Linked DNA regions of Homo sapiens: region 2 is linked to region 1. Evidence: fine-mapped expression QTL. A gene starts in region 1. The other region holds a variant in brackets. All regions are shown on one strand. Distances are from middle to middle.

Region 1 (2,916 bases):
ATTTTTAGTAGAGACGGGGTTTCACCATGTTGGCCAGGCTGGTCTCAAACTCCTGACCTCGTGATCCGTCCCCTGACCCCCGCCCCCCGCCCCGCCTCCCAAAGTGCTAGGATTACAGGCGTGAGCCACCGCGCCCGGCCGTATTTATGCTTTTGACTAACGTTTTTCTGTACAGGTGTATAGGGTAATGTAATAGGTAAAATAACTCATTCAACAACAAAAAATTATTGTAGTATTTTGTAGCTACTAGGATTGAAGTACTAAAGAATTGTCTGTCTGCCAAGGTTTGGGGAAATGGGAAAATGGGACAAGATCTTCACCACATGGGGCACATTTCACCTCTCTGGGATTCATTTCCTATTCTGTAAATGGCAGAGTTGGGGTTCCAGGTCTTGTCCTTGTTTTTTTGACTTTGTGTGAAGGTTTCTCCACCTCACCTGGCACTAGTCTTATTTCAAAATATTCATCTCATACTATCCTCTCTTTGCAATTCTTTAATTCATTCAACAAATATTTATTGAGCTTCTACTAGTATTGTGAGTAACAGAAGCAAGGTTCCTCCACACATGGAGCTTATTATAGTCCAAAAGGATAGGACAATAAATAATTTTGAAAGTAAACAAATATTTATTAATAACTGATAAATAACTATTGGTTGGAAAGGTGCTAAGAAGGAAATAAATAGGATCATGTGTTATGTCTCTGAGAGTCTTAGAATGAAGCAGACAAGCTCTTTCACTTTCAAGTGCTGACGTAGTAAAGTCATTAGGTTTCAAAAAAGGAAAAAAAGATAATATCTTACAATTAACTAATGAATGAACAGCCATTACGCTAGAAGAAAATTGTATTGTGATTGGTGTACTCCGTATCTTCTCAGAATGAGAGAGGTGAGGCTTCTCAAAAAGAGCAGCGAGAGAAAGTCACTTAAAAATTTTTTTTTTTTGGTAGGTCAAGCTAAAGACGAACTGAAAATAGACAACCTGAAGTCAGACGGGAAAGCTGCCAATCTAGTCTGGCCAGCAGAATTTCTTTCAGTAGGTCTAGGCTCCCTCGGCATTGGGAATCCAGATGTAAAGAAAACTTACGCCATAAACTTCAAGGTAGATTTCAGTTATTACTGCCCGGTGGCAGGAACCTAGGAAGGTGAGGTCAAGGTGTGGTTTAGTAAGAGACAGCTCCCGGGAACGGCACTTGGAAGGGCAGGGCGGAGAACAGCTGGAGATGAGATAGAGAGCAGGGGGAGAATGCGCCGACACCTCAAGGTGAGAGAGTAGAAACAGTCTCCGCCGTGGGAGCCGCGCGCTGCTCAGGTGGCTCTTTCCCGCTCAGGTGAGCTCCTCCCGCGCCTCCCATTGGCCGAGATGCCCGCGGCGCTGGGAGGGCGACGCAGCGCGGTCTAGTTCAGGGTCTAGGGCGGCGCGTCACTTCCGGTAGCGCGGAGCTTGTAAAACACCCTGGAGAGAAAATGGCGGCGGCAGCAGCTTCGGCGCCTCAGCAGCTCTCGGATGAGGAGCTTTTCTCTCAGCTCCGCCGTTACGGCCTGTCTCCCGGACCAGTGACGGAGAGCACCCGCCCGGTCTACCTCAAGAAGCTGAAGAAGCTTCGAGAGGAAGAGCAGCAACAGCACCGGTCAGGGGGCCGCGGCAACAAGACGCGGAACAGTAATAACAATAACACGGCAGCCGCCACGGTCGCAGCCGCGGGACCAGCGGCGGCGGCGGCCGCGGGGATGGGGGTCCGGCCGGTCTCGGGCGACCTCTCCTACTTACGGACTCCTGGGGGCCTGTGCCGAATCTCGGCCTCTGGCCCAGAGAGCCTCCTGGGAGGGCCCGGGGGCGCCTCCGCCGCCCCCGCGGCTGGCAGCAAAGTGCTGCTGGGCTTCAGCTCGGACGAGTCGGACGTGGAGGCCAGTCCCCGGGACCAGGCCGGCGGCGGCGGGAGGAAAGACCGGGCTTCGCTCCAGTACCGCGGGCTCAAAGCGCCGCCGGCGCCCCTGGCCGCCAGCGAGGTGACTAACAGCAACTCTGCAGAGCGAAGGAAGCCCCACTCGTGGTGGGGGGCCAGGAGGCCGGCGGGCCCCGAGCTGCAGACCCCGCCGGGGAAAGATGGAGCAGTGGAGGACGAGGAAGGGGAGGGAGAGGACGGTGAGGAGAGGGACCCGGAGACCGAGGAGCCGCTCTGGGCGAGCCGGACCGTGAATGGCAGCCGGCTTGTCCCCTACAGCTGCCGGGAAAACTATTCGGACTCAGAGGAAGAGGACGACGACGACGTGGCCTCCAGCAGACAGGTATTAAAGGACGACTCCCTTTCCCGGCATCGGCCCAGACGAACCCATAGTAAGCCTCTCCCCCCGCTGACTGCTAAATCGGCCGGCGGCAGGCTGGAGACTTCAGTTCAGGGAGGGGGAGGACTCGCGATGAATGACAGGGCGGCGGCTGCCGGGAGTCTAGACAGGAGCCGAAACCTCGAAGAGGCGGCGGCCGCGGAGCAGGGAGGAGGGTGTGATCAAGTGGACTCCAGCCCCGTTCCTAGATACCGTGTTAACGCTAAGAAACTGACCCCTCTCCTGCCCCCGCCACTTACTGACATGGACTCAACCTTGGATTCGTCAACAGGCTCCCTTCTGAAAACCAATAATCATATTGGCGGTGGGGCCTTCAGTGTGGACTCCCCCAGGATTTATTCTAACAGTCTCCCTCCCAGTGCGGCGGTGGCCGCCTCTAGTTCACTCAGGATCAATCACGCCAATCATACGGGCTCCAATCATACCTACCTGAAAAACACATACAACAAACCGAAGCTTTCCGAACCCGAAGAGGAACTTCTCCAGCAATTTAAACGGGAGGAGGTGTCCCCAACAGGGAGTTTCAGTGCCCACTACTTGTCGATGTTTCTCTTAACTGCTGCCTGCTTATT
Region 2 (2,916 bases), 59 kb after region 1:
GAGATTATATCTGGAGTCAAATTCTGGTACTGCCAGTAGAAGCTATTACATTTTGGTAAAGTCTCTAACTTTTCTGAACATGTTTCTCTGTGAATGTGGGACTGCCGTTAATACCTGTCAAAGTTGTTGGGAGACTTGAGTATATAAAATGCCTAGCTCAGTGCCTGATGATTATAGTAGCTTCCCAATAAATTCAATTTCTGTGTTTTCTAATTAAATCAGTGCCACTCTAGCGAGTAATCTCTAATAACATGCCACAGAAATTTTGTTTAAGGTTGTTTATTGTCTTTATTTTCAATTTTGACCTAGATGAGAACATTAATGACAGTAAAATTTATGGATAGTGTAATAGCTAATAGACTGGACAGTTAAAGGATCAGAATTCAAAAAGATCTTGACTAAGGAGGAGTTATGATTATAGGGCTCAGTGTTATGGGATGGACGAATGTCAGGGTGCAGGCAAAAAAAGGGATTGGATTGAGGCTAAAGGAGACATAGAATAAAATATTCCATGAAGAAAGGCATAGTGAGAATCCAAAGCAAGCAAACTATTCCTTATAAAATAATTGAATGGGTTTTCACTTCTAGTAGTAGGACTATCTTATCCCATTCAGTGTTTCTTTCCTGTTTTCTTTTTGTTAGGTAGTTAAACCTCTGAGATTTGATCTCTGAGAGGTAATACCGTAGATCTGTGTTATGATTGGTCATAAATTCCTGGAGCAAGTTTCATTGCTTTTCAGAAGAATGCTGAGACTCTTAAAGCATATGAAATAGGATTAATTCTTCCTTGGTATCTGGGGATTACTTCCGGGACCCCCATGGACACAAAAATTTGTAGATGCTCAAGTTCTTTATATAAAATACTGTAGTATTTACATATAACCTATGCATATCCTGCTATATACCTTAAATCTTCTCTAGATTACTGATAATACAATGTAAATTGTATGTAAATAGTTATTATTATACTGTATCATTTAGTGCAAACTTGTCCAACTTGCAGCCCAGGATGGCTTTGAATGCGGCCCAACACAAATTTGTAAACTTTCTTAAAACATAAGAATTTTTGCGATTTTTTTTTTTTTTTTTGGCTCATCAGCTGTTGTTAATGTATTTTTTGTGTGGCCCAAGACAGTTCTTCCAGTGGGGCCAAGGGAAGCCAAAAGATTGGACACTCCTGGTTTAGGGTATAATAAGGAAAAAAAAAAAGACTGTACAAATTTAATGCCGACATAATCATCTGTTTTTTTCCCAGATATTTTTGATTCATGATAGACTATATTGACTCTATTCAGTATTTCAGTCCATGGAGGTGGAACCCATGGATAAAAGGACTGACTGTACTGTGTTTGAAGGACTGAAGAAATGGGATAGGGACTGGGGACAAGATAGGACCTGACCAGTAATTAAGGTGGAGCTGAGGAAGAGGCAGGGGTTGGTGTGGAATTATTAACCTCTCTTTCACTTCTTCCAACCATTTTCTTGTAGCTGTGGGTCAGCAATGGTACAAGTTAAAAAGAAGGGACACAGATGCGGGGTTGGGGTAAGTCAAAGTCTAAGCCAGGCAGCAATAGAGTATAAGATTAATTCTACTGAAGACTAGCAGCAAAAAAGTTACTAGAAGCACTCTTGCATGAGTTAAATTGGAAACTGCTTATATCTACTTAAAAAAAGATATTAATGAACTGTAGCTTTTTGTGTTTTATTATTATTATTGTTATTATTTATTTATTTATTTATTT[T/A]TTTTTTTGAGGTGGAGTCTTGCTCTGTTGCCCAGGCTGGAGTGCAGTGGCGAGATCTCGGCTCACCGCAAGCTCTCCTTCCCAGGTTCATGCCATTCTCCTGCCTCAGCCTCCCAAATAGCTGGGACTGCAGGCACCTGCCACCACGCCTGGCTAATTTTTTTGTATGTTTAGTAGAGACAGGGTTTCACCATGTTAGCCAGGATGGTCTCGATCTCCTGACCTCGTCATCTGCCCGCCTCAGCCTCCCAGGGTGCTGGGATTACAGGCGTGAGCCACCGTGCCTGGCCACTTTTATTATTTTTAATTGACATAATTGTACATATTTATGGGGTATAGTGTGATATTTTGATACATGTATACAATGTGTAATGATACAGTCAGGATAAATGAGCCATCACCTCAAACATTTATCATTTCTTTGTGTTGGGAACATTCAAAATTTGCTCTTTTAGCTATTTGAAAATATATAATAAATTGTTAATTATAGTTGCCTTGCAGTGTTATAGAACACTAGAATTTATTCCTCCTACCTAGTTATAATTTCATTTAACCAACCTCTGGCTACAGACCCTCCACCTGCCACTTTGCCACTTTCTAGCCTCTAGTAACCACTATTCTCTTCTACCTCCATGAGATCAACTTTTTAGTTTCCCCAAAGGTAAAATAAGCCAAGTTCTTAGTAGTCCTTAACTTGGACTTCTAACTCATTTGTCTTCCACAAGTGAGAATATATGGTATTTGTCTTTCTGTGGTTGGCTTATTTCACTTAACATAATGTTCTTCAAGTGCATCGGTGTTGATGTGAATCACATAATTTTATTCTTTATTATGGCTGAATAGTATTCCATTGTATATATACCACATTTTCTTTATTCATCTGTTAATGAGCACTTAGGTTGATTCCATATTATTGTTAATAATGCGGCAATAAATGAGAGTACAGATACCTCTTTTCACTTACTGATTTTCTTTCCTTTGGATATATACCCAGTAGTGAGATTGCTGGATCATATGGTGGTTCTATTTTTAATTTTTTGAGGATCCACCATACTATGTTCTGCAATGCCTGTACTGATTTACATTCCCACCAACAGTGGATAAGAGTTCCCCTTTCTCTGCATCCTCGCCAGCATTTGTTATTTTTTGTCCTTTTGATACTAGCAATTCTAAC

Evidence for each region. PIP is the estimated chance that this variant, and not a neighbour inherited with it, causes the effect. A credible set is the group of variants that fine-mapping cannot tell apart.
Region 2: its variant is the best candidate, but not a certain one, in a credible set for the expression of LEMD3 in whole blood (INTERVAL, PIP 0.77).

Annotation. Positions count from the first base shown.
Region 1 is chr12:65,168,132-65,171,047 of GRCh38, forward strand. LEMD3 (LEM domain containing 3) reads left to right here and starts at 1,452. Exons shown (of 13, transcript NM_014319.5): 1 at 1,452-2,916. The coding sequence starts at 1,466. It overlaps LOC124902953 (a long non-coding RNA gene), which reads right to left and starts at 1,285. Exons shown (of 2, transcript XR_007063349.1): 1 at 1,086-1,285. RefSeq lists enhancers at 970-1,029, 1,215-1,787, 1,470-1,619, 2,530-2,609 and silencers at 1,740-1,949, 2,333-2,536.
Region 2 is chr12:65,226,664-65,229,579 of GRCh38, forward strand. The region is part of intron 4 of LEMD3 (LEM domain containing 3); the gene reads left to right. Among named protein-coding and RNA genes, the nearest start is that of MSRB3, 51 kb to the right of the region's middle. The variant T/A (reference allele first, on the strand shown) is at 1,743.